4 linked regions of the Homo sapiens genome follow. The protein of the gene in region 1 purifies or fractionates together with the protein of each later gene. This does not show direct contact. Each region holds a gene or a part of one and is shown in the gene's direction. Other genes may lie near its edges.

Region 1 (7,021 bases):
CACAGCTGCATGTTGGTAACATGGTGGGCACTCCAGGGCACAGACCTGCCATCTGTCAGCACTTTCTCTTCAACCTAACATGTCCCTCTGTTTCTTCTGAGCTAATGTTCCATCTGTCCAGACTTACACAGCAGTGGGAGTTGCCTCTGAAACCCCTTCCTTGTACACTTCTCTCTAAACCTGAACCCAAGCAGCACCTTTCCTCTCAAAATAAGGCGTTTGAAAAGCTTTCCCTTGCCTGCCTGTCCTGCCCAGTTACGTTGTTGCCTGACCTAATTCTGAAGTCCCTTTGGAGTTGGCAGGAATGAGGACCAAGCATCTGATTCCTCACTGGTCTGAAATGAGATCCCTTCCCTGTAGAAAGGAGCAGGTGCTATTTTCACCCTGCCCCATCTTCATTGAACTGAACTAATGGTTTAAGTAGGTGTTTAAAGCAATACCTGCCATCTTTCCTGCCACCAGGAAAGCCTGGCTCTGCTGACCTGAACATGCTCTGTGTTCTTGCATAGAGAGCTGTGGTAATGGTGGGATCCTCTGTCTCAGCTTGCCAGTCCTTTCCTTCACCAGGGTGGGAGGGAGGCCCACAACCCAGGGCATCTGCATAGCAAATGCTTCCACTCAACACGACTTTTCAGGAGTAAAACAAAAATGTATCTTATACACAAGACCTTCTTTCTTGGAAGAAACGCCCTGCTGCAAAGCCAAGGCTGAGGAGTGGCCACCTAAGGGATATTAATGCGATTTTTCCTCTCATTGGGAATAGGGTATGTGTATCTGGTCTTCGAACTAGAGAAGTCTGTCCGATCCTTGCTTCAGGCTTGCTCTCATGACCCGCTGAGCCCAGATGGCCTGAGTGAATATTATTTCAAGATGTCCAGCCGAAGGATGCGCTGCAAGGAGGTGAGTTAGCGTGATGTCCTTTCTGGATCGAGGGTCTTGGAATATTGAGGCACTGGATTTTCTTGTGGTAGGTGGATAGGCAGGCTGCAGGCAAGGAGTATTCCTGCTGAGGCAAGAAGGCTCTTCTTGTCCCACAATAAAATAGCAGTATCCTCTCAATTACATTAAAAAAAAAAAAAAGCAACCTTTGGGACTTAATGGGGTGTGTGCATGCACACATGCGCATGCCTGCCCATGGTAATCAAACTGTCTGCCCGTCTTTATTCTGCTCTTCTTTCTTGTAGCCAACACTTTGGTTTCAAACCTCTTGTCTTAGAAATGAAATTGAGAACAGCAAACTTCTCTACTTGGACTTAACTGATAAACCTACAGCTGTTTTTCCCTGGTCCTGCCCTTCCTGTGCCTTGTGACCTCCCAGTCTGTGGGGGTGAATTCCTCTTTAGCCCACACCCACCTGTGGGTCACTTCTTCATTCTTATTCAGGGCTTTATTTAGTTTTGTGGGTTTTCCCCATAAGATTCTCTCTTCCTACGCTTTTTCTAATATCAGCCTTATGTATCCTTGGCAGCATGGGTCTCTAACGAGTTTATCTCACCTGGGGATCTCATTGCACATTCTTGGGCCTTATCCCAGACTTACTGAATCACTCTGGGTGGAATTTAGGAATCTCCAACTGAATAAAGATCCCCAGGTGGTTCTAGTGGGTAGTGTTTGAGAACCACTTGTCAAAGCAAGTTTTGAGCTCAGGAATCAGTGCGGTGGTAAAATCGGATTTGAGAGCACACAACTTTTGTGACATTGGACTAGATATTTAATATCTCTGAAACTTTGTTTCCTCTTCTCTTCTATAAGATGGGAAACTAAAATGCCTATTTTAGTAAAAAAGATCAGTGGTTGCCAGGGGTTTAGCAGGAAGGGATGAAGAGACATAGCACAGAGGATTTTTAGGGCAGTGAAACTATTCTGTATATGGTGGATACATGTCATTATACTTTGGTCCAAACCCATAGAAGGTAAAAGAAACACCAGGAGTGAACTCTGATGCAAACCATGGACTTTCGGTGGGGATGATGGGTCAGTATAAAAAAATGTTCCACTCTCATGCGGGATCCTGATAGTGGGGAAGTCACGCAAGTGTGGGGGCAGAGAGTATTTGGAGAATCCCTGTACTTTCTGCTCAGATTTACTGTAAACCTTAAAGCTTCTCTAAAAAAATCTATAGGGTAAGAGGAGAAATGCCTATTTTATTGGGATGGTCACATTAGATTTAAAATAAATCCATGTAACAAAGCTGGCTCTTGTTCTGTGTTAGAGAGAGGGCAGGCTCATCCTCTGGCTGCCCACAGTGACCCACAGCTTCCCTACCTTCTCTGCTTCTTTATTCTCTGGAGCTTGTGTAGTCTTCCCACCTTAGTATGTTCTAGGACTTAATTAACATGCTCCTTTTTCCTCCCCTCCTGCTTTCACAACCAGAGATGGCCATATGCATATCACAGAGCCCTTCCCCTTCCTCCTCAGTGCCCCTGTAGACACCATCCTGTCTCCCATTCCCTCCCATCACCTTACAGGGATTTAATCTTTCTTTGATTCACTGGCTATAGGCTGATGCAGTTCTCCTTCCTCTCTACTTTTCTTTTTCCTTTGTGTTCCTCTCCCCGCCAGCACCAACATAGCCAATATAGCCAATCTTTGACTCCCTTCTTCTTTTCTAGTTCAGATAAATGACTCACTTTGTGGCTTCTCTCACCTTTAGACCCAGATTCACCTTTCTAGCCTCATGTCCTACCTGAGCCTCACCTTCCTGTGGGATCCTTCTTCGGGATGTCCTGTAATCCCAAACTCTTTTGTGGGCAAAATTGGCTTTTTCATCTTCCAGTGAAATTGGCTCCCCTCTTGTAACTTCTGCCAGGTCCTCTCATCCCAAGACCGTGTAGGCCCAGCACCTACCAGGCCTGATTCTTCCTTGCTTGCCCATCCTGCTTATGCTGTCTGAGTACTGCAGACTCTTCTGTTGAAGAATCTCTTTGGTCTTGGCCTGTTCTCTGCTCGTTGCCACCAGCCTTGTCCAAGTCTTAATCACCTGTCCTTTGAAACTACTGTTTTTGCCTCCTTGCTGGTTTCTGCCTCAGATCTCTTCCTGCTTCAAGACATATTTTTAGATCTTCACTTCATTCTGGACTCCTCCACCTGCTCTACAAGGTTTTGTTCCAGGTTCAGGAGATTCAGAGGCAAAGGACATGGTCAGCCCCAGCCCTTTAAGACTCCAGGGATCTTGTATGTGACTTTCTACCCAACCTCTCGCCAGTCATTTCCACTGCTCTGGCACAAACCCTCTGAAGGCTAGGTTGGGCCAGTAACCATCTCATACAAATATCGTAAGCACTCCCACCCCTCTGTCCTTCAGGATCCTAGCCTTTAATTTCTCTGTGAGTCCTTCCTTTCTTGAGGACTTCAGATTATGCCCTTTTCATCAGTGTCCACAGCCCTTTGTTGGAACTACACAGTTGGAGGTTGAAATAGAATGCTGGGCTCCTGGGTTTGGCCATGTGGTACTTTTTTGCTTACTCTCCAGCATGAGTGAGTACTGTGTCCACTTCTACCATTCTGGACACATGGACTCAGTAAAATTCAACTCCAGTTGGGGTGGAGTCAGGGTGGTTTATTGGACGCCTGTGTGCCTGAGATTGGGCAACAGCACCTTTTCACCCCTGTAAGGGCGTTAGCTTAGCTTCAGTATCTCCAGAGCACGTACCTTGCCGTGCAAGCACCTCTCTCTCTGTGGCTCTCTGCCAGGGCTGATACACCTTTGGGTGGTTTTCAGGTGCAGGTGATCCCCTGGGTATTAGCCGACAGTAACTTTGTCCGGAGCCCATCTCAGAGGCTTGACCCCAGCAGGACGGTGTTTGTCGGTGCTCTGCATGGAATGCTAAATGCTGAGGCCCTGGCAGCCATCTTGAACGACCTATTTGGTGGAGTGGTGTATGCCGGGATTGACACAGATAAGCACAAGTATCCCATTGGTAAGTGTCCCACTTCTGTGTGCGAAAGCTTGGTTGGCCCCTGGGAGTAGACCAAGATTGTGATACTTCCCCATGGGAGTGAGGAGAGAGGCCTGACCCAGGTCTGCAGATCAGCATATACCAGCACCATAATATCTTTTTCTAGACAAGTCACGAGTACTGGCCCTTCTGTATCTAGCCCTCTACCCACCATCTCCCACGCAGTGGGAGAAAAAGCTATTGGAGACTACAGGAGGTGATAAGAAGTGAGAGTGAGGTAGGAACTTTGTTGGAAGCTCAGAGTTCACAGCGAAACCAGTTTGGAACAGACAACAGGTACTATTTCATGAAAAGGCTGCAATTCTCTGAACTTGCCTGGAGTTTTTTATTAAAAGTTCTTGAAAAGCTCTGGCATTGTCTAAGGTCAGAGACCAGGTCAGGCTGGAGGAGGACTTTCTGAGTGAGTCAGGCAACAGAGTGTGGCCTGTGCTTTCCTAACTCAGAAGTCTGTGGGCCTAACCACTAGGTTTTGATCAGCTCCTCTGAGAAAGGAGGTCAATTCGCCAGTCCTGGCAAAATGTCAATGATGAGGTATGGAGGTGGAGCAGAGCCTGACCTCTGTGATTAACATGTGGCTAACCCACCTCCCCAAATGCTTAGTCTTCACACCCACACTGAATCTGGTCAGGAAGGAGCACCATGTACTCACCAATACTGTGCAGCAGATTGAGAACAGGGACTTCAGAAGCCCCAGGAGCGGAGGAGGAACTTGGCAGGATGGGGCTTCTTCCAGCTCTCTTAATAGGTCTCCAGAGTGCCTAAGGGCTAGGAGAGGTTCAGTTCAACTGCTGGGCTTACCCTTCAGACAAGTGTTCTATCTGCATCTTGGCTTCCACTCTGAATCCTTTAACCTTAACCTATGCTCTACCTGCACTGAAGGAGTCCCTTATCTTTCCTTCCCATCTTGATCTGCAAATTCTTCCCCCATTCCTGAATGGTTCACGCTAACATGATCTCCACTGTCAAATATGGTACGAATATGGTAGCTACCAGCTAAATGTGGCCCCATTGAGTTTTGGAAACACAGCTGTTGTCACATTTGGAAATAATATTATTAACATATAGGGTTAAATAAAATTTTTTTTTTGAGATGGAGTCTCACTCTGTTGCCGTGCTGGAGTGCAGTGGTGCTATCTCAGCTCACTGCAACCTCTGCCTCCTGGGTTCAAGTGATTCTCCTGCCTCAGCCTCCTGAGTAGCTGGGACTACAGGTGTGCGCCACCACGCTCAGCTAATTTTTGTATTTTTAGTAGAGACGGGGTTTCACCATGTTAGCCAGGATGGTCTCCATCTCTTGACCTCATGATCCGCCCACCTTGGCCTCCCAAAGCACTGGGTTTACAGGTGTGAGCCACCGTGCCCGGCCAATAAAATATATTATTAAAATTAATGTCACCACTGTTTTAAAATTTCAGTGTGACTACTAGAAAATTTAAAGTTACATAAGGGCTGACCATGATGGCTTATACCTATAATCCTGGCACTTTGGGAGGCCGAGGTGGGGCAGATCGTTTGAGTCCAGGAGTTCAAGACCAGCCTGGACAATATGGTGAAACCCTGTCTCTACAAAAAAATACAAAAATTAGCCAGGCATGGTGGCTCATGCTTGTAGTCCCAGCTACTTGGGAGGCTGAGGCAGGAGATTGTTTGAGCCTGGGATGCAGAGGTTGCAGTGAGCTGAGATCACGCCATTACACTCCAGCCTGAGTGACAGAGGGAGACCCTGTCTCAAAAAATAAATAAAGTTACATAGTAGCTCACATTATATTTCTGTCGGACAGCACTAGTATCGTAAAGGGTTTCCTGCATTTTAAAAGAGTAGCATTAGGGCAGGCTCGGTGGCTCACGCCTGTAATCCCAGCACTTTGGGAGGCTGAGGCGGGCGGGTCACAAGGTCAGGAGATCAAGACCATGCTGGCTAATGGTGAAACCCGATCTCTACTAAAAATACAAAAAATTAGCTGGGTGTGGTGGCAGATGCCTGTAGTCCCAGCTACTCGGGAGGCTGAGGCAGGAGAATGGCGTGAAACCGGGAGGCAGAGCTTGCAGTGAGCAGAGATTGCGCCACTGCACACCAGCCTGGGCGAAAGAGCGAGACTCCATCTCAAAAAAAAAAAAAAAAAAAAAAAAAGTAGCATTTGGGAGAATTTGGTTAGAAGGGAAGCTTGTGTCTGTTGTCCTAGGTTCTGGTCGTGTGACTTTCAATAACCAACGGAGTTACCTGAAAGCAGTCAGCGCTGCTTTTGTGGAGATCAAAACCACCAAGTTCACAAAGAAGGTGAGTTGGCTGGTTTATGCCCTTACTCTGGGGTATATGAGAGGGGTTTGGGCAGTTACTACCCAGGGCAGGCCTGAGACCTGAAGCTGTTTGTGCTGGGTGTGTTTAGGGAAGTGAGCCAAATTCCTGAGAATTAACATTGAGGTTAGGGTTTGGGAGTGGGCTTGGTCTTTGTACGCCCAGGAGGAAGGGAACTGGGACTGTTGAGCCTCTTCAGTGTGTAGGGTGCCTTCCCTCACTGTGGTATTTCTTTGGCATTGCTCAGTAGCCTGACTTCCTATTTTCCAACCTTTTGGGAATCCTCCGAACACTTGCCTATACTGCTAATTGATAGAGGGCTGAGGTACAGTTTGCCTAGAAGACCAGGCATTAAGGTGTGTGGTTGCCTGAATCCCAGAGGCATCCAGCCTGACTGTGCATGGTGTATGAGTCTGTCCTCTAGAACTCCTTTCTGTACTTCAGGCCCATAATTCTCTCCAAGCCTCCTTTAAAACAGGCAAATATCCTGCATTCCAATATCCCGCATTCCTGTGTGTGGCCAATAATGTGCCCTTCTTCTATCGCCTATCGAGCCTCCTGGTAAGAAGAGCCACTTCATCATCTTATTTTGCCTTTGTGCAGGTTCAGATTGACCCCTACCTAGAAGATTCTCTGTGTCATATCTGCAGTTCTCAGCCTGGTCCTTTCTTCTGTCGAGATCAGGTGGGTCCGATGTCTATGAAGTCCCTGCCCTCTATTAAAAATTGTTGGCTGGGCGCGGTGGTTCACACCTGTAATCCCAGCA
Region 2 (7,996 bases), on another chromosome or scaffold:
TCCCTTGTAAACAGAAAAATCTCAATTCTATTAGAATTTATTCCTTCAGCAAATATTTATTGGGCACCTACTGTGTGTCAGGCACTGTACTGGGTGCTGGGGTAGAATACATGATGAATTTGGATAGGAACAGTTACGACCTTCATGGAGTTTCATTACAATTTAATTAGTTCACCGGTTTCTGAGACACTTCTCTGAGTACTGTGTAAATATATAGAACCAACTCTGAAGCGTTATAAATACTGAGATGTTCTCTGACTCAGCAATTTGAAAGAGCCTAGACTTTTTTTTGGAAAGAAAACAGCTATATATAGATTTGGACAAATGAAAGATTTACCCAATAAAATATCTGAAGACTACCTTAAAATGAATCAGAAGAGACTGTCTCAAACAAATGAATGTTTATGACAAGTCGACTTGGTGTAATGGAAAAGCTTACAGGGCTGGAAAGCAGAAGATCTAGACCTTAGTCTGTTCTGCCCTGACTGGGTCACACCTATAACCTTGACTGAGTCATTTGCTCATCTGTACTTTGGTTTTCTCTTCAATAAGATAAATCCGTTGGACTTGATATTTGCTAAAGAATTTTCAAACTGTTAATATTTTCTTTGCATTATTTCTCTTACTGGACTCTCTAAGTAGTTTTTAGGAAATAAAAGCCCAACCCCCCAAGTGGATTCCTCTCTTGAGGGCACATTTTTCAAAGCAAAAGAAAGCTTTTTTTTCCCTTTTTGCAAAAAGACATTGCTTTCTTGTTTTTTTAATGATTGTAAAAAATTATGCATGATCAGTACAGAAAATAGAAATCGAGGAAAATACAGAGTAAAAGCTTCTATAATAACACTGAGACAACTATACTTTCACCATCACTGTATCTGTAGCAGGTATCGTACAGCAGGTGCTTTAAAAACAGTTGTTGAATGAATGATTACTGTTAATATCTTGCAAACATCCTTTTTGGTCTTCAGACCAAAAACGAATACATAAATAAATCCTTTCTCTGGGTTGTTTCACCTCTAAACCAGAAGAGCTCAGTAAAGCCACCAGAGACTAAAGCTGTTAGGACAATATCAAATCTCTTACATTGTAATATGTTTCACAATGACAGTTGATATCTGATGCCTATGGAATATAAGGAAACAATAACATTTAATCCATCATTCTGATAGGCACAATATCAAGGGTGGCTCAGTTTGAGCAATATCAAGAAGGCTGCAAAACAGTCCACAGTACTTCAGCTCAAGCAAGAGTGGCTCCGGCAGCACTGGGAGAGTTGGCTCTGCCTCCTGAATCCTTCTTCCCACACTTGGGCCCTCTTCCTTGCCCACAGCACCAGGAGGAGCTTTCTGGGGCATGTGAATTCCACTCAACACATTTTATTGGCAACCTAGCAGCCATTTGATTGTCGACTACATTTTCAGTAAACTAATCGTTTCCTGATTACCTCTGAACATGAATTACAGCCAGATCTTGTCTGTAGACCCATGCTACATTTTTTCCTCCAAATGGAATTAGTTGCTAATGTTGAAAATCCGGAATATTCAACATGTAAAGTCTGAATTGTCAGAATCTCTTAAAAAGTTGTTAGATCCACCACCACTGGGCCCCTATCGCACAGAGCAATCAATCAGAGCTGAGGAGCATGTGCTCTTCAGCTCCCATAAGCCCACCTACTCCTATTGTCTGACATCCCACATCCCACAGTTTGCTTTGCTAATTTACCTGATACGCTCCTGCTAATTATGTAAAACATTCATGGGGTACCTACTACACATCAGGCACTGTGTAAGTCCTGGGAACATAGGCAGATAAGGCAAAGCCCCTGCCTTGGAGGAGCTCACAACCCAGCAGTGGAAATGACTTACAAACCAGTAAATTACAGTACAGTATGGTGAGTACAGCACAGCAGCAGGAGCATGCAGAGGACTGACCCACTCTGTCCTGGGAAGCCAGCTCAAGATTTCCTGAAGGCCATGGTTAAGCTGGGTTTTGAAGGATGAATAAGAGTTCACCAGGCCAATGGAGTGGTGGGGAATACTAGCAACAGTGTGGGTGGTATTAAAAATATATATAAAGTCTTCTTCTGCTTAGCTGCCTGTTGCACAGATGATCCTCTCAAGCCAGCAACTACCTTTCTCTTGATGGTCATTCCATTTCCTCCTTCTATCAAAACAACAGGGAAGGTTCACCTTTATCTGGAAGAGCCTGCCTGACAAATCCCCATTCACCTCCAGTTACTTCAACTAAGGCAACCTTCCTACTCGGATAATTGGTTACCTGACTGTGATCCTACTATTGGAGCTCTTTGTTTTGGAACCTCTGATATTTAAAGAATAGACTAGCACAATAAGCAATTAATAAGTACTTATCAAATATTTACATTGTGTAGAGAACTCTCCCTGGTTTTTGACTTTAAAAATGGCAAACACAAATTAACTAAGAACAGATAGAGAATACAGTTCAGAAAACATTTATTTATTTTATTTTTTATTTTTTTTGAGACAGAGTCTTGCTCTGTCACCCAGGCTGGAGTGCAATGGCGTGATCTCGGCTCACTGCAACCTCTGCCTCCCGGGCTCAAGTGATTCTCCTGCCTCAGCCTCCTGAGCAGTGGGGATTACAGGTGCCTGCCACCACACCTAGCTAATTTTTGTATTTTTAGTAGAGACGGCGTTTTACCATGTTGGCCAGGCTGGTCTCGAACTTCTGACCTCGTGATCCGCCCATCTCGGCCTCCCAAGAAACATTTATTAAGTGTCTGATATTCAGGTGTTTTTCTTTTTTTTAATCCCTCCATCCATCCAACATTCAGTTAGCACTATTACGCACCAAGTACTGTGCTTGGTACCTGGAAATCATGCTGAGCTACAATAAACATAGTATAGCAGGTGACATGGATAAATAAACCCATTATAAAAAGTTTCTTGCTCGAGCAATGTTCAAAATACAGCAACTGCTTGGAGAAAGGAATGTCAGCTGCTCACAGGGATACTGGGTAGGTATCATGGAGAAGATAAGTCCAAGCTGCTTGTCTTGTGTGTTTCTTACCTTTTTAAATATATTTTTCGGCCGGGTGTGGTGGCTTATGCCTGTAATTCCAGTACTTTGGGAAGCCAAGGTGGGCGGATCACAAGGTCAGGAGTTCGATACCAGCCTGGCCAACATGGTAAAACCCCATCTCTACTAAAGATGCAAAAGTTAGCCAGGCATGGTGGCACATGCCTGTAGTCCCAGCTACTTGGGAGGCTGAGGCAGGAGAACCACTTGAACCCGGGAGGCGGAGGTTGCAGTGAACAGAGATTGCACAACTGCACTCCAGCCTGGGCAATAGAGGGAGACTCCATCTCAAAAAAAAAAAAGAAAGAAGAAAATATTTTTCAACATCCACAAAAATATAGAAACAGTACAATGAATCTCCACATCCCCATTAAACATCCACAACAATATAGAGACAGTACAACGAATCTCCACATCCCCATTACGTGGCTTTAACAATTAGTAACTTGCGGCCACTTTTGACTCATCTACACTCCCATCTGCTTCCCCATCCCTTTGTTTTGTTTTGAAGCAAATCCTAGACATCTTTATCATTGCATCCGGGAACACTGAGCTGCATTTACAGAAGAAAGTGGAAATGCATGTGTCTTCCACAGCCGTACCCTCCCCATCTATTCTGCCCTGAAAACAGTTAGATACTCGGATTCCTGCCAGTGACTCCAAAGCCTTGGCTGGTTCAGGGTAAATACCCAAGACTTTATTGGAGCCTTTCAGTTGGTTGAAGGACAGTGAAAATTCCATCCTGTCTTGCCTGGAATGCTAGCCACATTCTTCTGGTCCGGAGTCCTCATACAATTGCTAATTTTTTAGAGGCTTATGGAGTCCCTAACGTTTGCACAAAATGGTTGCTACATTCCACACTCCCATGTGCCCTGAGCAACCTCCAGGGAAACTTCAGATACCGTGGGGCTTGGCCTGCCAGCTGAGCTGACCCAGCGATCCTTTCTATCACAGCTTTGATCTTCACTGGGTTGGGAGCCTGTCTGAATCTAAACATCTGCCTCTCTACTGCCCACCCCTTCAGCATTTCCTAGCTCTCCCTGAAAGGTGCAAACATGCATGCAGTTACTCAAACAGAATATTTATCCTTAACTCCCTCTCCCTCACAATTTCTTTTAAAACAATCCACTATTGTCTACCCCCGCCCCCGCATCACCCTTTCATCCAGGTGCCCATTCCCTTCTCTCTAGTCCTGCAATACCTAAGCATCGATCTGCCTTTAGCACATCCATCCCCGCCTTATTCTCCACGCAGGAGCTGAGTGACCTGCACAAAATCCCCTGCTAAATACGGTACTTCCATGGTTCTTCACCACTGCAGAAACCAAACTCCTTCCCACACCAAGGAGGCCCTGCAAAATTTAAGGCCTCCTTCGGACTTCTCCAGCTTCATCTGCTACATCTCCTTCCTAGCCCGCAACCAAAACCATCTTTTCCGGGTCTGTTTTCTCGGGTTTTTGTCCTCTCACCTGGGCAGCTCCTTTTCTCTCATAAATAAAGAAAGCTACAGCGACTTCGCCCTTGCTTCCATGCATCATCTCATGAGTCCACAACAACACTAAGAATTCGCTTTCATTTTGCAGACGGAGAAACTGAGGATGGGCACCTTACCCATGGCCACAGAGCTAGTAAGTGGAACAGCTGCAACCAGGATTCAAACTCGCGGCTCCAGAGGCCACAGGCTTAACCACGGAATCCTAGCCCGCCCGCACATCCCTCCATCGCGGGAGCGACCTATCTCATCCGTAGACACCTTCCGCTGCACCCAGCCGCAGCTGGTCAGGCGGGCGGAGGAAGGAGGCTTCTGATTGGCCATCTCCAGCAGCGGAGGCGAGAAGGCGGGGAGCGACGGTGCGGGGGCGTCGCGGAGAAATGACTTCATGACGCGGCTTCTTAAAGGCGCCGGCCCAGCGCGCCGCGGATAGCACAGGCACGTCCCGGGGGCTCCAGCTTCTGCTCAGAGCGCGGAGAGCCGGGCCGGGCGGGCGCGCGCGCAGGACTCGGGCCGCTCGAGGGGTCCGGCCGGACGGTGTCGGGAGCCGGACCCGTCGGCAGAGGAGCGGGCGCCGCGATGGCTGAGGGCAGTGCCGTGTCTGACCCTCAGCACGCCGCGCGTCTGCTGCGAGCGCTCAGCTCTTTCCGCGAGGAGTCTCGCTTCTGCGACGCGCACCTGGTCCTCGACGGGGAGGAGATCCCGGTGCAGAAGAACATCCTGGCGGCGGCCAGCCCGTACATCAGGTGGGGAGGGGGCTACGGCGGGCGGGCGCGGCGGTGCTGCCCGGAGCCGGAGGCGGGGCGGCCGGGCCGGGCGTGGCCCCCAGACCCTGTCCCCTGTCCCCGGCGCCGGGGTCCCCGCGTCACCGTTGGCGCGGCGTCCCTCCCGGCAAGCGCCGGAACCCGGCCCCGCTGACCGCGTCCCCCAGGCGGCCTCTGTGGCTTCCAGGCCCGCGCTCCCCACTGGACCCCCGCGCCCCTTGGAGTTGTCCCCGGACCCGGGCCGCGATCCCCCGCCTTGTCCCTCCCGGTTCCCACCGCCGCGGCGAGCGCCCGACCTCGGAGACCCTGAGGCCCCCAGACGCCGTCCTGGGCCGGCCGGGACCCGCACCTGCGGGCTGGGCGAGGCCGCGCCGGGGAAGAGTCACCCCCTCGCCCAGGCCGGGCCCGCGGTCCCCGCTGAAGTTCGCCAGTCGCTCGCCTCTGAATCCACGCGCGGGGGCTGGGCCGGCGCCGCCAACCAGGCGGGGAGCGCCCTGCCCGCTGGGAGGCCAGACAGACAGCGCCTCGCTGGGTGCAGGCAGAGAAAACCCTCTCGATGTTCTCCTTGGGTTGGTAGTCCGAACCTCCGGGCGAAATTCTCCTTGCCAAACGTGTCTTTTCCGCTCCATTCTGGTAACTGTTTAAAAGAGGAGTTACACGTTGAAGTAAACTGTAGCGAATTCTCAGGATGCTGTTACAACCCGAGGACCGTGAGAGCCTTGCGACAAAGGGCATTTTAATACTTTAGTAAAGCAAAGCTTAACCTGATTTGCCAACTCAACTAACCAGGTTAATTAAAAGGTTGATAAGACAGTGCTTATACAAGTGTATCAGATCTTGCAGGAGACTATCTTTTCTTTTAGCAACCTTCTTGCAAACTAGGTTGCTGTTTTAATAAAAGGAAAGGGGGGAATGCTAAAAACTGGAGAAACTGACCAGTAAGCTGGTTAAATATAAGCTAGTGGTAGAGAATATCACTACAATTGACAGGTCAGAAAAAGCAAAATGATGTGTATTCTTAGCGCTTTGTCCCAGCAAAACCACCACGCACGCTACACTTTTAACCTTTGCATTGGGGAGATATCTGTGCTAAACTTAGAAGAAATTCAAGTGCCCTTGTAACTTCTGGTTTCTCTTGGATTTGTTTTGTGAATCCATTTGCGCTCTTTGGCGGTGGGGAGTGTGGAGGGGTGGGGGGGCGGGGCGGCAGTAGGGTCTGGGGTAGCATCGTTAGTACAGAATTTGGATTGCTAATGTGACAGACAGCTTCTAGCTGGCAGTTCCGAGGTTTGAGCAACCCATCCCAAATTGGAGTCAGCAGACCAAAGTCTTCCCTGTTTGGGAAAATGCTGAAGAAAACTACTTTAGATGCATTATTGTTATAGTTCTTTAAATGGCATCCGTTTGGCTTAAAAGAAGTAAATTGCAAATTGCCGAATCCTTGCTTGTTATCCTTGTTCGTTTTTCTCCATAGCACTTACCACTTTGACGTACCCCATATTTTACACATTTACTTTGGTGGTCTTTCCCAACCACAGTGTGACCTCAATGAGGTCGTGGTGTTTTGTTTTGTTTTTCGAGACTGAGTTTCACTCTTTAGCCCAGGCTAGAGTGCAGTGGCGTGATCTCGGCCCACTGCAACCTCCGCCTTCCAGTTTCAAGCGATTCTCCTGCCTCAGCCTCCCGAGTAGCTGGGATTACAAACGCCCGCCACCACGCCCGGATAATTTTTGTATTTTTAGTAGAGTCGGGGTTTTACCATGTTGGCCAGGCTGGTCTCGAACTCCTCACCTCGTGATCCGCCCACCTCGGCCTCCCAAAGTGCTGGGATTACAGGCGTGAGCCGTGGCACCCGGCGGTGTTTTCTTTTATTCACTGCTTTACTCTTTGCACCCAGAAAGAACTGTGCCTATCAGTTAATGTATTGAATGAATGACTGCCTTTCTTTCTACCACAGCAAATGTGTACATTAGAAAATTGGCACCATCACATTTTCATAGTACACAGACGCTCAGTTATACCTAATTGAGAAACGCACTGGATTCAGAGTTTGAAGACCCGCTTTGTGCTTCCAGCTTTTACTCATATTAGCTGTGAGTTGCTGGTAGATGACAAGGCTTCAGCTCACTAATCTGATGAATGAGGGATAAAAATGAGTCTTCTCATTTAATCACACCTGTGAAGAAATACGTAATAGTGTTGACACCTCATAGGTCTGTTCCCATGTCTTCAAAGGTAGTACCCATTGAATTAGGAAATATCTGTAGTCCGGTTCTTTCACTTTCTAAATAAGAAAATAGGGGCTCAGTGGACATTAGTGACTTGTGTTATGAGGTTATTAGTACTTAATGGTTGAACTAGGATTAGACTCCAAATTAATTACGGCTAACCGCCTTCCTACTCTTGCCCTACCACGTTAGAGCATTACTTGTATTTCACCGTTCTCTTTGTGTAAACTTTACTGTTAGCTGGCTTACAATATCTTAGAATTAAAATGTTTATCAAGCACTTTTACATACTGTGTCATTTTGGTTTCCATTTTCAATCATCTTTAAAGAGAAGGCAGATTTTTTTTTTTTATGTTTTGTGGATAAACATGAATCAGTCAATATGTGTTTCATCAGTGACAGATGAATTGCTTTAAGTTTATTTGGCTATTGAAGTGATAGAATGTCTTGGGATGT
Region 3 (7,021 bases), on another chromosome or scaffold:
TGATTATTTTTTCTTTTTTTTTTTTGGAAACAGGTTCATCAGGTTCATGCTCTGTTGCCCAGGTTGGACTACGGTGGCCCAATCATACTTCACTACAACCAGGCTCAAACAATCCTCCCACCTTAGCCTCCAGAGTAGCTGGGACTAAAGGTTCATGGCACCATGCCTGGCTAATTTTTTTTTTTTTTTTTTTTTTTTTTTAGATGGAGTCTTACCGTGTCTCCCAGGCTGGAGAGCAGTGGCATGATATCGATGCCCAGCTAATTGTGCATATGTCTAGAGATGGTGTGTCGCTGTGTTGCCCAGGCTGGTTTCAAACTCCTGGCCTCAAGTACTCTTCCTGCTTCAGCCTCCCAAAATGTTGGGATTATAGGCATGAACCCCTGCACCTGGCCTTCTTTTTTAGTTTTTAGGCCTAGGCTAGTCCTGAACTCCTGGCCTCAAGCCATCCTCCCACCTAGACCTACCAAAATGCTGGGTTTACAATTGTGAGCCACTATACCCGTCCTATTTTTGTTTTCTTTCCTTTCTTTGTTTTTGTTTTGTTTTATTTTTGAGACAGAGTCTTGCTCTGTCATCCAGGCTGGAGTGCAGTGGCGCAATCTCGGCTCGCTGCAACGTCTGCCTCCCAGGCTCAGGTAATTCTCATGCCTCAGCCTCCCAAGTAGCTGGGATTACAGGCATCCATCTCCATGCCCAAGTAATTTTTTTGTATTTTTAGCAGAGACTGGGTTTTGCCATGTTGGCCAGGCTGGTCTTGAACTCCTGGCCTCAAGTGATCTGTCCACTTTGGCCTCCCAAAGTGCTGGGATTACAGGAGTGAGCCACCACACCATGCCCTTTTTTTTTTTTTTTTTTAAAGACTTGTCAAGTGCAGTAGTGAGAAAGGGGGAAAAAGTAGAACAAGTATAGCTATTAGGATTCAAGAGTGAAAGGGCAGGAATACTGAACCCAGTGATTGGGGAGGCCGTTTGGCAGTAGTGTTCACTCATTCAGCAGATGTTTATTGAGCTCCTGCTAGGTGCCAAGCACTCTTCCGTGCTGGGAATATAAAAAGTGAAGGAACAAAATCCCTGTTCTAGGCCGGGGGCGATGGCTGAGACTTGTGATCCCAAGCACTTTGGGAGGCCAAGGAGGGTGGATTGCTTGAGTGCAGGAGTTCAAGACCAGCCTGGGCAACATGGCGAAACTCTGCTTCTACCAAAAAATGATTTCAAATAAATAAATCACTGTCCTCGTGGAACTTATAAATATGTAGTGTGTGATGATGATAAATGCTATGGAGAAAAAGCAACACAGATGGGGATCGAGAGGAAGTTAAAATTTGAAATATGGTCGTCGGCCGGGCGCGGTGGCTCATGCCTGTAATCCCAGCACTTTGGGAGGCCAAGGCGGGCGAATCACCTGAGGTCGGGAGTTCGAGATCAGCCTGACCAACATGGAGAAACCCCGTCTCTACTAAAAATACAAAATTAGCCAGGCGTGGTGGCACATGCCTGTAATCCCAGCTACTAGGGAGGCTGAGGCAGGAGAATCGCTTGAACTTGGGAGGCAGAGGTTGCTGTGAGCTGAGATCACGCCATTGCACTCCAGCCTGGGCAATAAGAGGGAAACTCCGTCTCAAAAAAAAAAGAAACATAGTCGTCAGGGAAGACCTTACTGCAGAGACATGTGAGTGGAGACCTGAAGGAAATGAAGAGGGAAGGAGTTGTGCTGATATCTAGGAGGAGGAATATTCCAGGCAGACGGAAGAGAGGCACAAAGTCTTTGAGGAAGGGGCATGTTGGGCATGTTCACAGGACAGCGAGGAGGCCAGAGTGGGTGGAGCAAAGAGCCCAGGGGGAGAGGCAGTCAGAGGAAGAACAGGCCAGATGCCATAAAATCTTGTAGGCCTTGATGGGGACATTGGCCCTGACCCTGAGCAAGATAGGGGGTGACAGGCAGCAGGGAAACTAGGGAGGAGGCTGTGGCTCGTCATTCATTGAGGAGACCCCTATCATGTGATACTACTGTGAATAGCTATTGGGTAGTTCCTTTTAAAAAACGTGTCATTTTCGGCTGGGCGCTGTGGCTCACACCTGTAATCCCAGCAATTTGGGAGGCCAAGGTGGGCAGATCACCTGAGGTCAGGAGTTCGAGACCAGCCTGACCAACATGGTAAAACTTCGTCTCTACTAAAAATACAAAAATTAGCTGGATGTGGTGGCACATACCTGTAATCCCAGCTACTTGGGAGATGAGGCAGGAGAATTGCTTGAACCTGGGAGGGTGGAGGTTGCGGTGAGCTGAGATTGTGCCATTACACTCCAGCCTGGGAAACAAGAGTGAAATTCCATCTAAAAAAAAAAAAAAAAAAGTATTTTCGGCTGGTTGCGGTGGCTCACGCCTGTAATCCCAGCACTTTGGGAGGCCAAGGCGGGCGGATCACGAGGTCAGGAGATCGAGACCATCCTGGCTAACATGGTGAAACCCCGTCTCTACTAAAAATACAAAAAATTAGCCGGGCGTGGTGGCAGGCGCCTGTAGTCCCAGCTACTGGGGAGGCTGAGGCAGGAGAATGGTGTGAACCCAGGAGGCGGAGCTTGCAGTGAGCCACGATCACGCCACTGCACTCCAGCCTGGGCGACAGTGCAAGACTCCATCTCAAAAAAAGAAAAAAGTATCATTTTCACCGTCCTCAGATTATTGTTTTTTTGGCATGTTTGTTTGTTTAGTGTGTGTTTTTTTTTTTTTTTTTTTTTTTTTGAGACAGAGTCTCACTCTGTCGCCCAGGCTCGAGTACAGTGTTGTGATCTCAGCTCACTGCAAGTTCCGCTTCCCGGGTTCATGCCATTCTCCTGCCTCAGCCTCCCGAGTAGCTGGGAATACAGGCGCCCGCCACCATGCCCGGCATATTTTTTTGTATTTTTAGAAGAGACGGGGTTTCACCTTGTTAGCCAGGATGGTCTCGATCTCCTGACCTCCGTGATCCGTCCGCCTTGGCCTCCCAAAGTGCTGGGATTACACGTGTGAGCCACCGCACCCAGCCTTGTTTTGTTTTTAAGACAGTCTCATTCTCGTCCAGGCTGGAGTGCAGTGGCGTGATCTCAGCTCACTGCAGCCTCTGCCTCCCAGGTTCAAGTGATTCTCCCACCTCAGCCTCCCAAGTAGGTGGGATTATAGGTATGCGCCACCATGCCTGTCTAATTTGTATGTTTTTAGTAGGGAACAGTGTTTCTCCATGTTGGCCAGTCTGGTCTCGAACTCCTGACCTCAGGTGTTCTGCCTACCTCAGCCTCCCAAGGTGCTGGGATTACAGATGTGAGCCACTGCACCTGGCCTGTTTGTTTCTGAGACAGGGTGTTGCTCTGTCCGCAGGCTGGAATGCAGTGGTAGGGATCACAGCTCACTGCATCCTCCACCTCCTGAGCTCAATTGATCCTCCCACCTTAGCCTCCCAAAATCCTGGGATTACAGGCGTGAGCTGGCCAAATTATTATTAATTATCATAATTGTTGTTAGCAGTTTATGCAGTAGCCTTCAGATCTTTTCCCATGTACATAAAAATAATAGTATACTTAGCCAATGTTTACTGTATATACTAACTCATTTAATCCTCAAAATAGTCTTGGGAGGTAAGCCCTGTTACTATCCCTGTTTCCTAGAAGAGGAAACTGAGAGCCAGAGAAGTTAAATGTCTTGCCTCAGGTCATTCTGCGTATACATAAACACATACTTGACAAAAATGGCTTGAACTGCATGTATTGTCCTCTGATGCAACAGGCTGTCAGGGACCTCTTTTCAGGATAATATACTGAGATTCACCTTTTTTTTTTGAGATGGAGTCTGTCTTTATGTCCCAGACTGGAGTGCAGTGGCATGATCTCGGCTCACTGCAACCTCCGCCTCCTGGGTTCAAGCGATTCTTCTGCCTCAGCCTCCTGAGTAGCTGGGATTATAGGCTCAGCTAACTGTTGTATTTTTACTAGAGATGGGGTTTCACCATGTTGGCCAGGCTGGTCTCAAACTCCTAACCTCAGACGATCCACCCGTTTCGGCCTCCCAAAGTGTTGGGATTACAGGCGTGAGCCACCGCGCCCGGCTTCACCAATTTTTTTTACCCTGTTTCCTCTGCTGGTTTTTGGTTTATCCTTTCAGATTTTTTTCCTTTTTTAACATATATATTTTTTCCCCTTTCTTTTTTTTGAGTCAAGTTCTCACTCTGCTGCCCAGGCTGGAGGGCAGTGGCCCGATCTTGGCTCACTACAGCCTCTGCCTTCACCTCCCTGAGTAGCTGGGACTACCAGGCACGCCACCATGCCCAGCTAATTTTTATATTTTCTGTAGAGATAGGGTTACACCATGTTGCCCAGGCTGCTCTCCGACTCCTAGGCTCAAGCGATCTGCCTGCCTCAGCCTCCCAAAGTGTTGGGAGTACAGGCATGAGCCACTGCACCTGGCCTCATTTTTCTTTTTTTTTTGTAAAACAGAAACATACAGTCAACACTGTCTTCAGCTTTGCTTGTTTTCACTTAATGTATGCACTCTCTATCAGTGTCTAGAGATTGTTCTCATTTTTTTGTTTTTTTCTTCCTTTCTTGTTACAGTTCCATAGTCTTTTTCCTTTATTTATATTTATATGTTTTTCACTTACTTTCACAGGTGTTGAAGCCCCATGGCCTTTGATTATGTATGAACTTTTTTTCAGCCAGTCTCCCTATTTGAGAACACTTGAGTTGCTTCTAGTCTTTTGCTATTATGAATAGTTGTGTAATTGACATATACTGCTACGTTAATCATTCCATAATTTTGCCTGTGTGACTGTGATGGATGCCTGAAAGCCCCCTTCCTCCCTTTTAAAAACAGCTTCATGATATTCCAGAGAGTGGCTGAAACATAATTATTGAAGCAGGCCTTTTGTGATGTATTGAGTGCCTACTATGTGCCGGACTCTGTGCCTGATATTCCTCAGAGCTGTGTTTTTAAAAGTTTACTCTGGGCCAGGCACTGTGGTTCACGCCTGTAATCCCTGCACTTTGGGAGGCCGAGGCAGGTGGAACACCTGAGGTCAGGAGTTTGACACCAGCCTGGCCAACATGGTGAAACCCTGTCTCTACTGAAAATACAAAAATTAGCTGGGCATGGTGGCATGTGCCCGTAATCCCAGTTACTTGGGAGGCTGAGGCAGGAGAATCACTTGAACCTGGGAGGCAGAGGTTGCAGTGAGCTGAGATCGCACCACCACACTCCAACCTGGGTGACAGAGCAAGACTTCATCTCAAAAAAAAAAAAAAAAGAAAGTTTGCTGTGGTGCCCAGTCCAAAGCATATCCCAGATGGAGAGAGGGGACACACGGAGACCTGCAAGGTGGCTGTTGCACGTTCATGTGGCCCATCGTTCAGCAGCTGTTTGTGGTTGGCCCACTTGAGGCTGAGACTTCTGGCTCTGCCTTGGGAGATGTCAGTCTCCCCCAAGTTACAGGCCCCGTGCACATATCCATAAGCCAGAGACAGACCCTGGAGGGGAGAGGGACTTGAGAAGGCCTGACTGGGGAGGAACAGCCTGGGAAGGAGGCTTGGGCCCTTTGTAGGTGTTCGGGTGACAATCCAGCCCAGCCCATCCGCTGGTTCCCTGAGCTTGATCCATCCTCTTCTTTCCTGGGGACAAGCTGACAGCAGCCATGGCGAGCGGCAGTGGAGACAGCGTCACCCGTCGGAGCGTGGCATCACAGTTTTTCACTCAAGAGGAGGGGCCGGGCATCGATGGCATGACCACCTCAGAGAGGGTGAGCGTGGCGGGTAGGGCTTGGAGTGAGGAAGCATAGCCCCTGGCTTTGGCAATCCCTGTTTAGGTGGCAGAGCCCTGGGAGTGCCGAGGGGGCTGCACTGGGCTGGACTGGGCTGGCACTATCCCCTGCCACTCCCCCTCCTTCCAGGTGGTGGATCTTCTGAACCAGGCGGCGCTGATCACCAATGACTCAAAGATCACAGTGCTCAAACAGGTGAGGGCCCGGGGGGCATCCTGGGCTGAGCAGGTGAAAGGGAGGAGGCTGGGAACCTGAGAAAGACACTTGCAGTAACACCAGTGTCCACATTTACACACTCAGTGTGTGCCGGCCACAGTGCTCAGTGCAGGCCTCTGCTCTTCTAGTTCTCATGAAAGCTCTGTAAGGCAGGGTAGTTTCATCCCTGTTTTATACAGAAAGAAGCAGACCCCGGGGCTTAAATTATTAGCCCAGGGTCACTCTGCTGGGAGCTGGCTGAACTAGTAATTGAATCCTGGATTCCAGCTCCAAATCCTACACTCTTCATCATTGCATTTCTTCTCTGCCAGTGTCCAGTCCAGTGGGGCAGACATTCCTGTCACCAGGCAATGATGACCCAGTGTGGGCAGGGCTGGGATGGAGAAGGGAGCCCAGGGGGGCTCTGGGAGCCCAGAGGGAGCTCCTGACCCAGCCTAGGGATGGGGAGTCAGGGAGGACTTTTGAACCAAGCCATGGAGGATAAAAGGAGAGAAGTGTACCAAATGAGAGAGGCAGAGCATCTCTTTTTTTTTTTTTTTTGAGGCAGAGTCTTGCTCTGTTGCCCAGGCTGGAGTGCCATGGCACGATCCTGGCTCTCACTGCAACTCCTGCCTCAGCCTCTTGAGTAGCTGAGATTACAGGCACCTGCCACCATGCCTGGCTAATTTTTGTATTTTTAGTAGAGACGCGTTTCACCATGTTGACCAGGCTGGTCTCAAACTCGTGAGCTCAAGTGGTCCACCCTCCTTGGCCCCCGCAAACTGCTGGGATTACAGGCACGAGCCACCGTGCCCAGCCAAGAGAGGGAGAGCATGTCAAGCTGAGGGCACAGAAGTGTGTGCAAAGGCAGAAGACGACATGGGACACTTGGGCTGGGCATGGTTCAGAGCAGGAGGCAGTTGGAGTTCAGAGACTGGCAGGGTTAGCATTCCTGTGTGAGAACCCGTTCGGCTCCTTCATCAGCCTGTAGCCTTGTGGAGTAGCCCCACCTCCGAGGTGGAGTGGATGCACCTGGTGCCT
Region 4 (7,704 bases), on another chromosome or scaffold:
TACATGCCTGTATTGTATAGCAGTGGAATCTTGGCTTTTACTGTATCCATCACCCATATAGTGAACATCGTACCTAATAGGTAACTTTTCAACCCTCTCCCCACTTCTACCTACCCATCTTCTGTAGTCTCCAATGTCTATTATTTATAGAAACCAAATTGAAATACATTGCTGCTGCAGCTAGGGATGGCCCCCAAAAATATTGTTGTGAAATGTTCTCTGTGGACAGATTTTAAACAGTTAACAGGTAAGCAATTTTGTGTAAAGGAAGAAGTGGCCTGAAGTAAGGCTATATACAGAATCTTGAGCAGTGGAGAATGGTTTATGTAGTTGGCCTTGGCACAATTGTAGGATCAGAAATAAACAGGTCTGTAGGTAAATCTATAGGAATAAGTGCATAAAGTGTGTGGATCTTTATGTCTTAAGTCAATGTCAACCAGAGTATATAGGTTTTAGAGAGACACTGAACAAACCAGGTGGCTAAAATGACTTATCCAGTAGATTTGAGCCAGGCTTTATCCTCAGCTACCTAGTGTTTGCACAGAACAGATACGGTAGCAGGGATGAAATCTTTGCATGGACCCATCAACCTGGGCTTCCTCTCACCAAGGCCAATCTCACTACACGTTAAATATTGGCCCAAAGACAACAAAAATTGACACTGAGCCTTCAGTATAATACCACCCTTCAAGAAGACCAACCAGACCACTAGATGTCAAGGTGATCAAATCAGTCCTTTTGCACCTTGGAGGAGTCTGTGATTTTTTTTTTTTTTTACTGAAATTGACATAAATTCTGGGTATGGATATTCCCCTGTTGAGAGTGGTTCAGCCAGCACCTATTCGAGGACTTGCAGTGTCTGTTTAAATGTCCTAAAATCCTACTAAACATCAGCTTAGAGAAAGTTTTGAAAGTTTTACTTTACAGTAAAGAGGCACAACAATGCGAATGTAACCATGGAATCCACTAGTCCTTATACATCATCTAAAAGCTGCCAGCCTAACAAAACTGGAATGGCCAGTAGAGACCATTGTGGGGTTGGGGACTGTCATTCAATATGCAGTATATAATTGGATAACTAAAGGATATTATATGCTAGCTGGAATATATGAGCCTGGGAACCAAAGCGTTAAAGTAGGAGTATTCTCCGTTGAATTATTTGTGAATTTGTGATCCATTGTCTAGTCTGCTGGACTAGAGGGCCAGTTCTCAGGGTGAAGTTAAGCAGTTTTTCTACCAGGGGTCATAGTAAAGTTCTACTAAATCTGAAACTATAGCTGCCACCTGGTCATTTTATGAATTTCATGTTTGTAGACAAGCCAGCAGGCAATTAAAAGGATTGATCTACTGGCAAGCTTAAATGATTATGGTTTCTGTGAGGAAATAGTACATAATGGAAGCAGGGAGGAGTATGGCTGGCACTCAAAGGATTCCCTGGGATACTCTTGGTGCTTGCATGGCCTGTTAAGATGCACTGGAAGTAACTACAGCCTTATTAAAGCACAGAAATAGGTCTTCTGGTTTCTCAGAAATGAAGAAATGTTTCTCTCCACTGAGAAGGCAACCTAGACAAGGAGAACTCCTGATCAAGTATGAGCAAAACCTAGAATGGGTAATAGAGGAGAAGATCTTGAATATCAGTTAGGATCACAAAATCAGTTGCAGCAAAGAGGACTATAGCTTAGACTTTCCTATTGTGTGTGTGTGTGTGTGTGTGTATATATATATATTTAAACTAACGACCAGCCACAAAATTGAAGAAGCCATTAAGGAAAGGTTGATCTTTGCATAAGATAGGGGCAATATGGATGGGATACCCACAACATCTGTGAAGGCCATCTCCCTTTATCACTCAACCTTGCACATTCCAATGGCATCTCACTGCAAACATCAGAGATCCTTCATCTAAGCATTTTTTCTCAGCCCACACGTGGGCCAGGTCAGGAGTGCAAGGGGGTTATGCTTTCAGGACCAGTCTTTATCCAGAAATGAAAGGAAGTTGGAAGAAAAGTACCCCAGGTTTCTAACCCACCCAAGAGGGAAATTGGAGGCAGATTTTACATTGTTTCCTAGAGTTACCTGAGGAGATCTAACTCCTGGTTCCCACAACAAAACCTGCTAGATATGTTCCCAGTCACTGGCTTCATTCCGTTCCAGTTTTCACTTTCCCACTGTCCTACCCCGTTTCTTATGAGCACCTTCAAAATAAATATCCCTTGCTCACAAATCCTTGTCTAGGAACTAAAGCTCCAAAAATACTGCCTAACAGCCACTCTGTTCATTGTAAAATAAAGATAGAAAAAAAATTGTCTTGTAGGATTGAAACCAGGATAATATGAGATATTTAGTGTCCAGATCTTAGAATCCATTTATTAAAAAGGGACAATAATAATGATGATTATTATGATGATTCACTCAACAAACACAAAAGGACTACAATAAAGTGCTTGGGTTTCAGTCTTAAGATCCATTTATTAGTAGCTCTGTGATTTTGGGCAAGTTACTAAATCTCCCTGTGTCTTAGCTTTTGTAAAATTGGGAGAAAGCATTTGTTGGGAGAATTAAAATAGAATAATCCACACAAAGTAGTGAAACCTGTCCAGGGCATTACAAATGTCTAATAAATAATATCCTTGTTATCATTCATCATGTACTAAGTGCCAAAAACTTTGTCCTTGCCTGTGAGTTAAAGTTCTCAGCTACTGAACCTACTGCGAAAGTAATAAACTTAGTCCTGTGTGAGCAGCTCTAACATTTCACAACAATAGACCTCAAAAATCATATGAGCTCTTCCCCTGGCCTACTCCCAAACTGGAGATGAATGTCAACGTATTTCAAGCTAGGTTTGAAATACCACATACTTTGAACAACTGTGAAAGATCTCAAATTTCTCTTCTAGTAACAACAACAATGGAAGCAGGGAGGAGTATGGCTGGCACTGAAAGGATTCTCTGCAGTTTCTAGGAAACATGCAGTTTCAAAGAAGTCAGGTCAAATACATCCAGCCTATCTACACTAGGTAACAGTTGGGCAATTCCCTTTGTCATCTGGCTTAGTCACTGAATTTCCTTTTTGGTTTCTATTTCCTACAGAGAACTTTCAAAAATCCCCCTTTCTGTTATTCCATATTTTGTATTCAAATTGTCTCCTTTTTCGAGCAGGGAAAATGGGGTGGGAAGAACAAAAACCCCAGGACTGAGTGAAGAAAATAAATGAGAAATCACCACAGTGAAAGTAAAAGACGAGAGTTCGAACTCAGCAAGTTCTCATCGAAGCAGCTTTCTTTTTTCTTTTCTTTTCTTTTTTTTTTTTTTTTTGAGACAGAGTCTCGCTCTGTCACCCAGGCTGAAGTGCAGTGGTGCAGTCTCGGCTCACTGCAAGCTCCGCCTCCCAGGTTCAAGCCATTCTCCTGCCTCAGCCTCCCGAGTAGCTGGGACCACAGGCGCCCGCCACCATGCCCAGGTAATTTTTTGTATATTTTTAGTAGAGACGGGGTTTCATCGTGTTAGCCAGGATGGTCTAGATCTCCTGACCTCGTCATCCACCCGCCTCGGCCACCCAACATGCTGGGATTACAGGCGTGAGCCACCGTGCCCAGTCCCTCATGGAAGCAGTTTTCTTACTAGCTCTAAAATACCTCTTCTCCCGATTTTATAATCAAGGTAATGAGAGGTGACGGCGTGCTGGCAGCCCTTGCAGCCCTCCCTCGCTCTCGGTGCCTCCTCTGCCTGGGCACCCACTCTGGCGGCACTTGAGGAGCCCTTCAGCCCTCCGCTGCACTGTGGGAGCCCCTTCCTGGGCTGGCCGAGGCCGGAGCTGGCTCCCTCAGCTTGCTGGGAGGTGTGGAGGGAGAGGCAGGGGTGGGAACTGGGGCTGCGCCCGGTGCTTGAGGGCCAGCGCGAGTTCTGGGTGGGCTTGGGCTCTGAGGGACCTGCACTCGGAGCGGCCCCAGGCAGTGAGGGGCTTAGCACCTGGGCCAGCAGCTGCTGTGCTCCACTTCTTGCAGGGCCTTAGCTGCCTCCCGGTGGGGCAGGGCTGGGGACCTGCAGCCTGCCATGCCTGAGCCTCCTCCCCTCTCCCGCTCCCCACCTCACCCCGCCATGGGTTCCTGTGCTGCCTGAGCCTCCCCAACCTGTGCTGACCCCTGCTCCACAGCACCCTGTCCCATCCATGGCCCAAGGACCGAGGAGTGCCAGTGCATGGAGCAGGACTGGCAGGCAGCTCCACCTGCCGCCCGGTGCAAGATCCACTGGGTGAAGCCAGCTGGGCTCTTGAGTCTAGTGGGAACTTGGAGAATCTTTATGTCTAGCTAAGGGATTGTAAATACACCAATCAGCACTCTGTATCTATTTAATCTGGTGGGGACTTGGAGAATCTTTATGTCTAGCTAAGGGATTGTAAATGCACCAATCAGCACTCTGTATCTACCTCAAGGTTTGTAAATGCACCAATCAGCACTCTGTATCTAGCTCAAGGTTTGTAAATAGGCCAATCCACACTCTGTATCTAGCTAATCTAGTGGGGACATGAAGAACTTTTGTGTCCAGCTCAGGGATTGTAAACACACCAATCAGCACCCTGTCAAAACAGACCAATCAGCTCTCTGTAAAATGGACCAATCGGCTCTCTGTAAAATGGACCCATCAGCAGGATGTGGGTGGGGCCAGATAAGAGAAGTAGCCAGCAGTGGCAACCCACTGAGGTCACCCTCCAGGCTGTGGAACCTTTGTTCTTTCACTCTTTGCAATAAATCTTGCTGCTGCTCACTCTTTGGGTCCACACTGCCTTTATGAGCTGTAACACTCACTGGGAATGTCTGCAGCTTCACTCCTGAAGCCAGCGAGACCACGAACCCACCAGGAGGAACAAACAACTCCAGACGCGCAGCCTTAAGAGCTGTAACACTCACCGCGAAGGTCTGCAGCTTCACTCCTGAGCCAGCCAGACCACGAACCCACCAGAAGGAAGAAACTCCAAACACATCCGAACATCAGAAGGAGCAAACTCCTGACACGCCACCTTTAAGAACCGTGACACTCAACGCTAGGGTCCGCGGCTTCATTCTTGAAGTCAGTGAGACCAAGAACCCACCAATTCCGGACACGGTAAGACTGGGGCAAGAGGTGGAAGAGATTTGCAAGATTCATTTGGTTTTAGAAACATTCTACAAAGGATAGGATGCAGCTTATCCTGATGTGGTATATCAGACCTCAGTAAAGAATAAATTGTATTCTTATCAGACAGGCAGCAGAATTCATCAAGTACCAGCTGTGTCTGCCTCTTGCTGAATTAGACATCAATGTGTGTGGTGACTAAACTAAGAGTTTGAAATGCCTTCAAATTATTTTTCTTCCTTTGCAATTTTATGACTTATTCAGGATCATAATTTCCACTTAAGTTACCTTCGTCCTTCATAAAATCTGATTAAACTGACTCGAACTTCAGCATGAAAGTTTCAAAAACTATGATAGCTATTATTTTCATGAGAAAGAACAATGAATATGATGCAATGTAAGTAGCTTGCAAACATTAAGGACAAGAAAAAAATGTTGCCCAGAGAGAAGTTTCATGAAAACAGTGATGTATTTTTAGTCATAGTCTTGTACTTTGTTTGAAAGTAGATTTCTTCCTTTAGCAATAGCCCTGACTTAATTCATGTTGGTTTCTTGGCATCTACTCACTTAACTAACCCCTTTTGTGTTGGGTTCTGCTTCTACTACTCTATTGCCTTTACTATTATGAATCACCTAATTTAACAGTTGCCCAACTGGATCCCTCAATACTGTCTGGCAACTGTTCACTCGTTGAAATTCTCTCCTTTGAATTTCTTACCATGACACATACTTCAAGCATTTTGTACTAGTTTGATTTCCATTTATATCCTTAATAAGAGCCTTTTCCTTTTCCTTGAAATTCAAACCAGAAACTATGCAAAATAAGCAAAAGCAAGCAATAACAACTACATATACAAATGCAGGCGCAAAACCCAAACTAGAATCATATGGCTGAAAACAGATGTTTTCTTTCAGAAATCCTTCCACTACCACTTCTGAGCATTTTCTCTTAGTATTTTTTTTTGGGCATTTTCCTTCTTTGCACTTTTTAAAATCTCCTGCAGCTCGCTCACTCTCTTTCATAAGCCAGCAGTTATACTGATGTTAATAAATAGTTGTTTATTTACTTTTGCTTTTTTAGAAAACAAGCTGAAAGAATTGAGTGAAATGCCAGAGAGATACAGATAGCCAGTTGTAGGGCTGGGGTTGGAAATCAAGTCTAATTTAAGGCAAGGGCAAAATGTGCATTTTGTGTGTGTATTTTGAACCATTCTTGCATTGTTTTTATTTGCAAAGGTTATAGGGCTCAAGCAGTTAGGGAGAATGCATCCCAGAACACTAAGTTATGAATAACAGAGCAACAGTTATGTTTGTGGCTTGAACACATTAAATCTGCAATAATGTTTTAGAAATTTGGCTTTACTAAAAGCATTAAAGATGCTATCCAGATGACATTGGGGACAACATGTCAAATACTATTATTAATGTAGATATACAATGCTATTGTCATTCATAAGAGAGTCTGAACACTCAGACACATTCATTCCCTCTTCCTTAGTGACATCATCCCAAATCATAAGATCTTGTAAGCTCTCAATATCTGCTTATAGATTTGGCTTATGTATCTTTTGTTTTTCTAGCTAATTGTTGTAGATCATCACTTCAAGGTGCCCATATCTTTCTAGTGGAAAAATTATTCTGGCCTCCGCTGCATACAAATCAGGCAACCAGAATTCTACATATATAAGGTACTAATACTACATTGAAAATAGATTAGAATGAGAAGAGACCTGCCATTTGAGTCTCTAAATTTGTTGCAAAATTGCCTCTTTCTGGGTCAGGCTTGCACTAGGCATTTCCTGACTCCCATGTCCTAGTGCTACACCATTTGCAAATGGATATCCTATTTTCTGCTGCCAAGCAGTTTCTGTTTTAATTTATGTCAACATAATGATTTCCAGGGCATTAGCTATGAGGAAGCAGGGAGAATGGGTCTTCATAATTGTAAAATGACAGTTTTTGAAATTTGCTAGTAAAGAGATGGAGAATCCAAACCTTTTCATTGTAAGATTTTAGTGAAAGAACTCGTCAAGCGGATAGTGAAGTTTTAGCATCCTTAGTAAATAACCACCTTTAAAATGGAAGAAAACTATCCTTTATGATAAGGCAAAGTAGAAAAGCATATTTTTATGGCATTTGCTTTTTCTCATATAGCTCAAACATTTTTTTTAACCAGAGACTCTTTAGGTTATAGGGATTGATGCTCAGAAGTTAGAAAAAAATAGGTTAAGTATTATTAAAGGAAGTTGTTTTACTCATTCAGTCAATCATAAAATAATCATGCTTTGAAGTTTTGGTTTAATAAAGCACATTAGTAACTATGTAAAAAATTTCAAGTATATCACTAAGAAGCAAACAGCTATGATTTGTTAGATAATGCTGCATAATGACTTGGTAGTATTTAATGTAATGCAGTTTGACTGGACATAGATCTAACTGAAAAAAATGAAGTTGACACAAAGTAAAAGGAACAGTGTAATATATTAATAAAGAACATCATAAAGAATTAATATAGGAACCCAGGGAGGTAAAAACTAAAAAACATAACTAAGCCAAAAACCAATGGAATAAGAGTTAGATTCAAACTAGT

What was found.
Region 2: the proteins of CPEB1 (region 1) and GAN purify together in Homo sapiens (affinity purification with mass spectrometry; 2 studies listed by BioGRID and IntAct, with this or other methods). This does not show direct contact.
Region 3: the proteins of CPEB1 (region 1) and SYMPK purify together in Homo sapiens (affinity purification with mass spectrometry; 4 studies listed by BioGRID and IntAct, with this or other methods). This does not show direct contact.
Region 4: the proteins of CPEB1 (region 1) and GBP5 purify together in Homo sapiens (affinity purification with mass spectrometry; 2 studies listed by BioGRID and IntAct, with this or other methods). This does not show direct contact.

What each region holds. Positions count from the first base shown.
Region 1 is NC_000015.10:82,546,359-82,553,379, reverse strand, and holds part of CPEB1 (cytoplasmic polyadenylation element-binding protein 1), read left to right. Parts: intron 1-763; coding exon 764-900; intron 901-3,721; coding exon 3,722-3,920; intron 3,921-6,142; coding exon 6,143-6,237; intron 6,238-6,858; coding exon 6,859-6,939; intron 6,940-7,021.
Region 2 is NC_000016.10:81,309,987-81,317,982, forward strand, and holds the start of GAN (gigaxonin), read left to right. Parts: upstream 1-4,975; 5' UTR 4,976-5,127; coding exon 5,128-5,294; intron 5,295-7,996. UniProt on the Homo sapiens protein: Probable cytoskeletal component that directly or indirectly plays an important role in neurofilament architecture.
Region 3 is NC_000019.10:45,853,134-45,860,154, reverse strand, and holds part of SYMPK (symplekin), read left to right. Parts: intron 1-5,647; 5' UTR 5,648-5,659; coding exon 5,660-5,764; intron 5,765-5,914; coding exon 5,915-5,980; intron 5,981-7,021. UniProt on the Homo sapiens protein: Scaffold protein that functions as a component of a multimolecular complex involved in histone mRNA 3'-end processing. Specific component of the tight junction (TJ) plaque, but might not be an exclusively junctional component. May have a house-keeping rule.
Region 4 is NC_000001.11:89,269,853-89,277,556, reverse strand, and holds the start of GBP5 (guanylate-binding protein 5), read left to right. Parts: upstream 1-4,696; 5' UTR 4,697-5,105; intron 5,106-6,694; 5' UTR 6,695-6,802; intron 6,803-7,704.